2 separate regions of the Homo sapiens genome follow, and region 1 is linked to region 2. The links come from fine-mapping of genetic effects on gene expression. A gene starts in region 2. The other region holds a variant in brackets. All regions are shown on one strand. Distances are from middle to middle. Region 1 overlaps SCN8A (sodium voltage-gated channel alpha subunit 8). Region 2 holds the start of SCN8A (sodium voltage-gated channel alpha subunit 8).

Region 1 (5,378 bases), 34 kb after region 2:
CTGTTCCAGGATTCAGTCAAGAGTATTACATTGCATTGTCATTATGTCTCCTTAGTCTCTTCTGGTGTGTGACAGTTTCTCAGACTTCCCTTGTTTTTTAATAACCTTGGTAGGTTTGAGGATACTGATGAGGTATTTTGTAGAACACCCCTCAATTTAGGTTTGTATGATGTTTTTCTCATGATTAGACTGGGGTTATGGATTTTTGGGAAGACTACTACAGAGGTGAAGTGCCTTCCTCATATCATATTGGAAGAATATACTAACATGACTTATTACAGATAATGTTAATTTTGATCATTTGGTTGTGTTAGTGTTTGCTAGGTTTCTCACTATAAAGTTACTATTTTTTTTCTCTTTCTATACTGCATTCTTTGGCAATGGGTCACCAAGTCCAGCCCACGCTTGGGGGAGGAGGAGTGAGGATTAAGCTTTACCTCCTACAGAGGGTATTATCTACTTATATTATCTGGAATTCTTCTGCAAAGGAAGATTTTCCCCTTCTACCTATTTGTTTATTTATTGAGTTGTTAATTTGTATCTCTATGGACTTGTATTTATTTTATACCTTGGGTTATAATACAATACCATGCTATTTATTTTCTTCCTGAAATTGTTCTAGCTTTGGCTTCTGGGGCCTCTTCCAGGTTAACTTCTGTGTCACTTTGACATGTCCTCATCCTTTTGCTACTTGAGCACCTCCCTACTTTTTTAGAATTAGAAGATGTTCCAGGTTCATCTTGTATTTTCCTTGCCCCGGCTCTAGAATCAGCTTTTTCTAAAGAGCCCTAGTTCTTTTTATTGGAGAAACCAAGTTCTGAGCATTGGGTTGCATGCTGCTAGTAGGCCCTCTCAGTGAATAGAGTTAGGAAATAAAAGTATGTATGCTAACCCATGTATATATACATATTTCTAATTATTTCTGTATCTATCAGTCTGTATATATGCTAAGCTAAACGTGGATTTGCACTGGTATCTTTGACTCCAACTCAGTACTGCAGAGTTCATTCTAGCCTTTCCCCCTTGCAGATCTGCATTTCACTCTCTGGCAATGAGAAACCTGCCTCTCATCATCCACCGTGGTAGATGGGGAGTTTACTTATTTGTTCAAACCCTTACACATGTAAAGCAGGTTCAGATTTGTTAACTTATACTCCTATGAGCTACGATTTACCAATTAGAGTTCCATGTTTATGTACAGATTATTTTGTCATTAGCCTATAGTTGTCAGTCAAAACACTATTTTCTTTTTTTTTATTATTATACTTTAAGTTTTAGGGTACATGTGCACAACGTGCAGGTTAGTTACATATGTAAACATGTGCCATGTTGGTGTGCTGCACCCATTAACTCGTCATTTAACATTAGGTATATCTTCTAATGCTATCCCTTCCTCCTCCCCCCACCCCACAACAGGCCCCGGTGTGTGATGTTCCCCTTCCTGTGTCCATGTGTTCTCATTGTTCAATTCCCACCTATGAGTGAGAACATGCGGTGTTTGGTTTTTTGTCCTTGTGATAGTTTGCTGAGAATGATGGTTTCCAGCTTCATCCATGTCCCTACAAAGGACATGAACTCATCGTTTATGGCTGCATAGTATTCCATGGTGTATATGTGCCACATTTTCTTAATCCAGTCTATCATTGTTGGACATTTGGGTTGGTTCCAAGTCTTTGCTATTGTGAATAGTGCCACAATAAACATATGTGTGCATGTGTCTTTATAGCAGCATGATTTATAGTCCTTTGGGTATATACCCAGTAATGGGATTGCTGGGTCTAATGGTATTTCTAGTTCAAGATCCCTGAGGAATCGCCACACTGACTTCCACAAGGGTTGAACTAGTTTACAGTCCCACCAACAGTGTAAAAGTGTTCCTATTTCTCCACATCCTCTCTAGCACCTGTTGTTTCCTGACTTTTTAATGATCGCCATTCTAACTGGTGTGAGATGGTATCTCACTGTGGTTTTGATTTGCATTTTTCTGATGGCCAGTGATGATGAGCATTTTTTCATGTGTTTTTTGGCTGCATAAATGTCTTCTTTTGAGAAGTGTCTGTTCAT[A/G]TCCTTCGCCCACTTTTTGATGGGGTTGTTTGTTTTTTTCTTGTAAATTTGTTTGAGTTCATTGTAGATTCTGGATATTAGCCCTTTGTCAGATGAGTAGATTGCAAAAATTTTCTCCCATTCTGTAGGTTGCCTGTTCACTCTGATGGTAGTTTCTTTTGCTGTGCAGAAGCTCTTTAGTTTAATTAGATCCCATTTGTCAATTTTGGCTTTTGTTGCCGTTGCTTTTGGTGTTTTAGACATGAAGTCCTTGCCCATGCCTATGTCCTGAATGGTATTGCCTAGGTTTTGTTTTAGGGTTTTTATGGTTTTAGGTCTAACGTTTAAGTCTTTAATCCATCTTGAATTAATTTTTGTATAAGGTGTAAGGAAGGGATCCAGTTTCAGCTTTCTACATATGGCTAGCCAGTTTTTCCAGCACCGTTTATTAAATAGGGAATCCTTTCCCCATTTCTTGTTCAAAACACTATTTTCTAAGGTTATATAGGCCAGCTTTTTTTTTTCCTCTACCCCCTTCAGTGAGTTTATGTCATACATTTATAATATGTTAGGTTCATTTGTCACAGTCTACATCCTATCCTGGGATTCCCTGACATACTGGTTCTCTTGAAAAAACGTACATACCTTAAAGTTCACTCTTTGTAAGGTACAGTTCTACGGATTTTAACAAATGCATAGAGTAACGTATGTTCCACCCTAGTAACACATAGAATAATTCCGTTATCCTAAAAGTTTCCCTGTGCATCTCCCTGTAGTCAAACACCTTCCACTGCAAACCCTGATAACTAGTAATCTGTTTTTCATCCCTGTAGTTTTGCCTTTTCCAAAATGTCACGTGAGTGGAATCATATAATTTGTAGTCTTTCACCTAGCAAAATGTATTTAAGATTCACTCATATTGTTGCAAGAATCAATGGCTTGTTGCTTTTTGTTGTTGACTAATCGTCCATTCTATGGTATACCACAGTTTCTTTATTCAGTCACCTGTCAAAAGACGTTGTTGCTTCCAGTTTTGGATGCTTATACACAAAGCTGCTATAAATATTTGTGTACAGGTTTTTATGTGAACCTGGTTTTCAGTTAACTTGGATCAATAACTAGGTTGTGATTGCTGGGTCATATTTTAAGTTTATATTTAACTTTATAGGAAGTTGTCAAACTGTGCGGTATTAGAGTTTAATCACCCCTCCCCCTCTTTTGTTTTTTTGGACAGAGGGAATAATTAAACAATCGCTAAGATTCAGGCCAAAAATGTCAACTAATTATCTACTTGTCTGTGTAAAATTCAGCTTATCAAGTAACTGCTGTATACATAGCATTGAATTTGTTGAGTGGTAGAAGTTTTTAAAGGAGTTTGCTATCTAATACGGAAGGTGAGAGTTTGTAAGCAGTGATGTAAGCCACCATTTAGGATTAAGTTGGGTTGGGTTCTAGTTCTTTGTGTCTGGTGGCAATAGTAGTGGTAGTATCCAGTTGATTTGTGGCCATTGATGTAATTTATAAAGGTGACTCAGTGACTACACAGAGTGGTCAATGTCATTGAAAGGAAAGTTTATTACTTACATTTCCCAAGACAAGAGGGCATTCTGCACCACACAGGGCCGCAGAGGGAAGCACCAGTTTCAGTCAGGAGGCAGAAGGAGCGAGGGGAAAGCATGGTCCAGAGCTCTTACTATGTTTTCCTTGGGAAAGGCAAGGCAGGGCAGGAGAAACAGGTTAGAATTGGCCAATTTGAATAATTCCAGTGGGCTTTAGGGCTGTCCTTAGTTGTCTGGTACCTGGTCCTGGGTTGATTTAGGGCAGGTGAAATGTTGGCTTGATGTGTGAGAGTTAGATAAAGGAGGTGGTTCAGAGAATGGACTTTGGCTCTCGGGAGGTTTAAACAACTTTGGCCATTAGTTTGGCCTTGTGATCTATGGATGCCAGATAGACAAATACAGAATCAGCAAAAACACAGAATACCCAACACGACCTTCCTGCATAGAGCTCTCCGTACCTACCAGTTGAATTATTTAATTCAATGCATTATTGACTGCCAACTTTGAAATGGGTACAGAAATTTATAGATGAAGACTTTGTCCTCAAGGAGCTCGTGATATATCATGAAAAACCATTCATTCATTAATTAAGCAAACATTTATTGAATATCTACCATGCACCAGGAACTTGCTAGTCTTTGAAGATTACAGGGCTTTAATCAAACAGATGGAAAATTTATAACAAAATAGAGTATGTTTCTCTTCCTTATAAACATTAGTATTTAGGACAAAAATACATTCTCTCATTTTGCTGTGTTTTCTTTCTCTTACCTCTCCCACCTCCACTCTCCAATTGTTTTCTGGATTTTTAAAAAGATTTATTTATTTATATTAAATTATTAATTGATATTTAATTATATATTCTATTATATGTAAATTAGTATTTATTTATTTATTTAGATTTTTTTAGCTTGGATTATGGATTTGAGTTTTCACATTCATGAACATGTAAGCAAAAGCATGTGATTGACAGATTTTCTTTTAAGGATCTGGGGCAGATATTTAAAAAAACTCAAAAGTTTTCATTTAGTTGTCTTTTTACTATTGCCTCTAACAGGCAGTAATGGGGGAAGTAGCATAGTTATATGTATGTGTGGCTGAAGGAGTGGGAAGATGAGGTGCTGTGGGGGAATATTAGCTTGTGAGGAGAGTTAGAGACTAGGGACTAGGAGTAGGAGACTTATTCTAGTGTTGGTTTTGTTGTTAACATATACACTTTGGGTAGATGTCTTCCTCTTTCTAAAGCCTCAGTTTCCTTGTTTAGAGAACAGGGTTCATGATTACAACTTGTTCTATCTTATATTATTGTTAAACATGAAATGAGATAATAAATATCAGCCTTAAAGTGCAATACAATTGTAAAGTATGTTATAAGGCCTTAACCATAAAAGCCTCAGAAAATATTGAGGGAATGAATGAGTGTATCTCTTTGAGACGCAGTCTTGCTCTGTTGCCAGGGAGGAGTACAGTGGCACGATCTCGGCTCACTGCAATCTCTGCCTCCCAGGTTCAAGGGATTCTCCTGCCTCAGCCTCCCAAGTAGCTGGGATTACAGGCATGCACCACCACACCTAGCTAGTTTTTGTATTTTTCGTAGAGACAGGATTTCACCGTGTTGGCCAGGGTGGTCTCGATCTCCTGACCTCGTGATTCCCCCAGCCTCGGCTTCCCAAATTGCTGGGATTACAGGCATGAGCCATTGTGCCCAGCCCTCTTTTTTCTTCTGTTTCTGACATTTACTACAAGAAATAAGCACTGAGAGCCCTTGATCTTCTT
Region 2 (5,378 bases):
CAAGATTTATTATAAAGGCAGAGTAATCCAGACAGTGTGGTATTAGTGCCAAGACAGAAAAATATATCAATGAAACAGAAGGAGAGTTTAGAACTAGATTCTTACATACTTGAGTAAACGATTTTTTGCAAAGGTGCAAGGGTAGTCAGTGGAGACAGGATAGTGTTTTCAACAAATAGTATGGGGACAACTATATATCTATGCAACAAAACAACAAAAGAACTTCAAACTACATTTCATACCACATACAAAAATCAATTCAAAATGGATTATAAACCTAAATGTAAACTCTAGAACTATAAAATTTCCAGAAGGAAACATAGGATAAAATATTTGGGGCCTTGTGTTGGGCAAAAACTTATTAGACATGACATTAAAAGCATGATTCATAGAAGAAAAAATAATAAACTGAACTTCATAAAAATTAAGAAGGTCTAATTTTTTTTTTTTTAAGAGACAGGTTCTGGCTATGTTGGCCAGGCTTGAGTGCAGCAGCTATTCACAGGCCCAATTATAACACATTATAGCCTCCAACTTCTGGCCTCAGGAGATCCTCTTGCCCGAGCCTCCCGAGTAGCTGGGACTACAAGTGTGCACCAGGACAACTGGCTGAAGAACCTCTGCTTTTGGAAAAACACTGTTAAGAGAGTAAAAAGAATAAAAAGATAAGCCTAAACTGGGAAACAATATTTGCCAATCACATGTCTGACAGAAGATTTGTATCCACAATATATAAACAACTCTTTAATTTTTTTAAAAAAATTTTAGAATCAGAGTCTCCTGTGTTGTCCATGCTGGACTTGAAATCCTAGGTTTAAGCAATTATTCCTGCTCAGTGTCCAGAGTAGCTGGGACACCAGGCATGCGTCACTGAGCCCAGCCAGGATATATAAACAACTCGTAAAACTCAATTAACAAGAAAAAACCCCACCAATTTTTAAATAGGCTAAAGACTTGAAGAGACACTTCGCCAGGAGGATTTACAGATGACAAGTCCATGAAAAGATGTTCAACATCTTTAGTCACTAGTGAAATGGACGACAGACCCACAGCGAGATAAAACTACACATCTATTCAAATGGCTAAAATTAAAAAGACTGATCACTCCAAATGTTGGTGAGGATGTAGAACAACTGAAATTCATGTGCTGCTAGTAGGAATGGAAAGGCACAACCACTTTGGAAGGCAGTTTGGCCCTTTCTTAATATGTTAAATATACACCTAAGACAGGACTCAGTTATTCCATTCCTAGATATTTATACCCACGAGAAACGAAAGCATATATATCCATACAAAGACCTGCACACGAAAGCTCATAACAGCTTTGTTCGTAACGGACAAACATTGGAAATAACCTAAATGTCATCAACAGGTGACTGGATAAACACATTGTGGTGTATCCCCATAAAGAATACTACTAAGCAGTAAAAAAGAACTCTTGATAGGCAACGACTGAATAATCTCAAAACGATTATGCCGAGTGGAAGAAGCCATACAAAAAAGAGAGTTTGTACTGTATGATTCCATTTATTTAAAATTCCGGAAAATGCAAACCAATGTACAGTAATAGAAAGAAGATCAGTGGTTGCCTGGAGAGGGTGTGTGGGGGCGAGCGATGCAGGGAGTGATTACAAAGAAGCACACGGAGAAATTTTTGGAGGTGATGGGTGTGTTCATTACCTTGGTGGTGATGGTTTCATGAGTGCACACATAACTCAAAATTGTACAATCTAAACACACGCAAATATACCCCAGTAAAGCTAATTTTAAATGTATTGTAGAGGGCACATTATGTGATAAGCATACCATGTGCCTGGCTGTGTTAGCAATGTGTGAAGTGCATGCTCCCCGTTAGTACAAACAAGAAGTTTATAAGGTTGCTACTGTGACTGTTTCCTTTTACAGACGAGAACACTGAGGTTTGGAGAGGTTGTTACACCCTTTTTCCCTCTTGTGATTGGTGGTAGGAAAATATTAAGTAGAGGAGAGACACAGTAAAGTGCCAAGAGCTCTGGCACTCATTACCTAGATCCTCGCGAGGGTGGAGTGAGCGGTCGAAATGCTCATGCCTACTTTACAGATGGACAGACTGAGGATCGGAAAGACTGAGGTGGCCTGGGGGCTGTCAGGGAGGCAGCGCCTCCCCGCTCCTGGCAGCAGGTCCCTGTGGGCTGAAACACGAGCCTCCACCTGCCGCTGATTGACTTCTCGTTTTTTCAGTGGGCCCAAGATCCTGTAAATTGAGTTCCCTGCGCTTTTGGATGTCAGAAACTTCACTGAGCGCGGCACTGTTGGGGGGCAGGAGAAAGGTAAGACTTGGCACTGACGCGGGCCACAGAGCACGCGGGTCACCACGACAGCTTTCGGGTCTCGCCGCCCGGCGCTGGCGAGCAGCCAGCCAGCGTCTCGCGGCGGGTCCCGGTCCTCAGCCCGCGGCCCCTCCCGGCGGCTCGGCGGGGGCGTAGTGGAGGCGGGCCCGGGGACGCTCGCTGGCGCTCCCGCGCGGCGCCCCCTGCCGGCGCCCTGTTCCCTCTTGCCCCTGATCCGCTCCCGGCGGCGCGGAGACGCGAGTCTGAGAGCCTGCGGGCGGGCGGCGCGCTGCAGGCGAGCGGGCGAGCGGGCGCGCCCTGCAGGGGTAGGTGGGCCGCGGGGGCGCGGGCGGGCGGGCGCGAAGCGCAGGGAGGGGGCGGGGGCGGTGGCAGCGGCGCTTGCGGGCCGGGGCCGGCCCGGGCAGGGGGCGCGCGCGGAGGGGTAGGCGCGGGGGCGGGGCGGGCGGGGGGCCCGGCAGTAGGGGCGCGCGCGCGGTGGCGCGCGGCGGGCGCGAGTCATCAATTATGCAAGGACTCGGGCGGTGCGGGGGGCGGGCGCGGGGAGCGCTCCAAGATGGCGCCCACCGCAGTCCCGCCCGCCGCATCCTCGGCGCCTTTGCAGTCCGGCCGCGCCTCCCGGGCCCCGCGTTAGGGCCGCCGCTGCCTCCCTCGCCGCCGCCGCTGCCGTAAGTCGCCCCAGAGCCCCCGCCCTAGCGCTGCTTCCTGCCCTCCGGGTTTCCCTTCTCGCCTCGGGACCCTTGAGCGGGGCTCGCCCATCTCCAGTCAGGGGCTTTGCCGCAGAGTGCGCGGCGGGGCTCCAGGGGCCGTGGAGCTGGGGCTCTGCTCTCCTTGTTTTGGACAGGTGTTTGGAACTCTTGCTTCCTTCTACTGTGTGTACCGGGGGTCTCTTAAGAGAACTGAGGACCACCAGTCCCCACCCCGGACACCCTGCTTTCTCCGTCTCGGCTACAGTGAGGGACACGGCCCGTCCTTGGTGCCCCTTCCGCGGTGCAGCCCTCCATCCCTCCCTCAGTGCCGGGCAGAGTTGGGGCCCCTAGCCGGCTTGCACTGGGAAGGGCAGCGCTGTCGGGATCTTCCTACAGCAGCCCCTCAGCCCTCCCCCTCCCCCATGTCTTACTGCATCCTTCTCCCTCAGCCGGCTTCACACTGCTAAAAACTGCAGAAGCCAAGGGCTCCTGGGTTCTTCCCGCAGCCAGCACTCCCGACTCCCTCTGTCCTTTACTCGGATGCGTTCGTCCCCCTCCCAACAGGGTGCTCTGGAGTTGTGATGGGGGCTCCCGGGACCTTCCTCGGCAGGCGAGGATTCCTGCATTTGGAAGCACATCACTTTGAGAATATCCCCTTCCCCCATCCCACCCCCACCCCCACCCCCCACCCCCACGCCACCCGATGCAGAGCTTGTTCCTCTCCTCTCCCTCCCCCACCTTACCATCAGCAGCAGCACCCTTGGCTTCTTGTTAGCGTTGGGGTACAGGACTGTTTGCCCAGCTCCGTGGGCTTGGACCCTCCTCTCTAGTTCTCACTTGGTACCTTGGGGCACCGCAAAGCCTCTGCAGTTTCTCCTGAGAGCTCAGCTCCATCCCCTCCATTGCCAGCAACAACCACCGGTGGAGACTTGGCTAACTTTCCAGGGGTTAGCCAGGACTGTCAGACCCTTTCAGGGGCCCCAGCTTCGAGTTGGGATGGAATGGGAACCATTTTTCAGCCCGATAAATAGGATTCTTCAAACCATGCATTCCATCCGACTACTCCACCCTATGCCCTCTTCCTCACTTACACTGCAGTTTTTGAAGCATGAGGGAATACATTTTATGTCCGGAGATTCCAAGGTTCTGCATCAGCGTTCATAATAAATGGATGTCATCTGTTTGGGGGGAGGGTAGAAGAAACTTTGGATTGCATCTGGCTAAAGTCAGGGGGAGGGAGAAATAATTAGCATGGAGCAAGCTCTGCCACACAAGGAAAACTGCTTTTTATGCACAGTGGGCACCAGAGAGTCAGGGATGGAAGCAGGAAGTGTGGGTGGGGGCCATGGGGGTAAAGGGGGAGAGTGCTTTTTATAACTGTTTTCCCAAGTTTGAACCTGGAGAGCCTTTAGAGAGAGGTAGCAGTGTGTTAGGGCTGGGGGATGTTTTAGCTTTCCAATGGAGATTTCGGGTGTGGTAGGTTTTTCACTGTCTCAAAATCCCTCTGCACTTCTCTTTTCTCCACGTGCATTAGAAGATGTGGAGGGGGGGATGTTGTGCTTTTATTCTTTTCTCAAAAAAAATTTTTTTTTTGATTTGTGATGCAAATGGCTGGATAACATTACCACACGGTACCATCCTGGTAGGAATCTTGGGGGAATCAGACTTAAAATGCTGAAAGCTTTATAGCACATTACATGTAACCTGGTTCTTGAAATACTGCAGCATTTTTCTTTGGAGCTCATGACCCATAAGGCCTTCATTTCTCCCTGAAAGAGGATTTGGTTGCTGGTTGGTGAGGTGGTGGTTGTGGGTAGTGATCCTTTGGTGTTCAGCACGCATTCCCTGTCCTAGAAATTGAGGTCCTCCCTGGAGAGGGCTGCAAGCATGTTCCGTGTTCTCTGAACATCTGATTCAGGGTATATGTAAATGTGTTGTGTTTCTGAGTAGAGCTGGTGGTGGGTATTGCAAAGCAGTTCATAATGGTGCAGATCAGTTATTGGTTTCTTGGCTTCAGTTTGAGCAGCTTTGGTTTTCATTTGGGGTTTTGTCAACTTTTATCAAAATCTTTGGAGGATTTTGTTTTAAATTAATAAAGGATAATCAAGTGGAATACTGCATCCTTAAAAACAACCATACGGTTGCTGTTGCTTTCCTTGTAGGACCCTTAAGAATTTTTTCTCCTGGTCCAGCTTTGGGTTGCCTGTGTTTAGGCTTGTATTCAGGTTTCTTGCTGTGGTGCTGAAAGGACAGTTCCCCGACCAGTTCTGCGGCGAAGTGCACACACACTGGACATGATTGAGTTTTTTTTTGCTTTTTATTATCAGCAGGCTTTCTCGTGGATGTGTATGTACATGCGCAG

What was found. PIP is the estimated chance that this variant, and not a neighbour inherited with it, causes the effect. A credible set is the group of variants that fine-mapping cannot tell apart.
Region 1: its variant is the best candidate, but not a certain one, in a credible set for the expression of SCN8A in blood mononuclear cells (TOPMed, PIP 0.61).

The regions. Positions count from the first base shown.
Region 1 is chr12:51,622,368-51,627,745 of GRCh38, forward strand. The region is part of intron 1 of SCN8A (sodium voltage-gated channel alpha subunit 8); the gene reads left to right. Among named protein-coding and RNA genes, the nearest start is that of SCN8A, 34 kb to the left of the region's middle. The variant A/G (reference allele first, on the strand shown) is at 2,065.
Region 2 is chr12:51,588,365-51,593,742 of GRCh38, forward strand. It overlaps SCN8A (sodium voltage-gated channel alpha subunit 8), which reads left to right and starts at 2,869. Exons shown (of 27, transcript NM_001330260.2): 1 at 2,869-2,995. RefSeq lists a silencer at 2,372-2,621.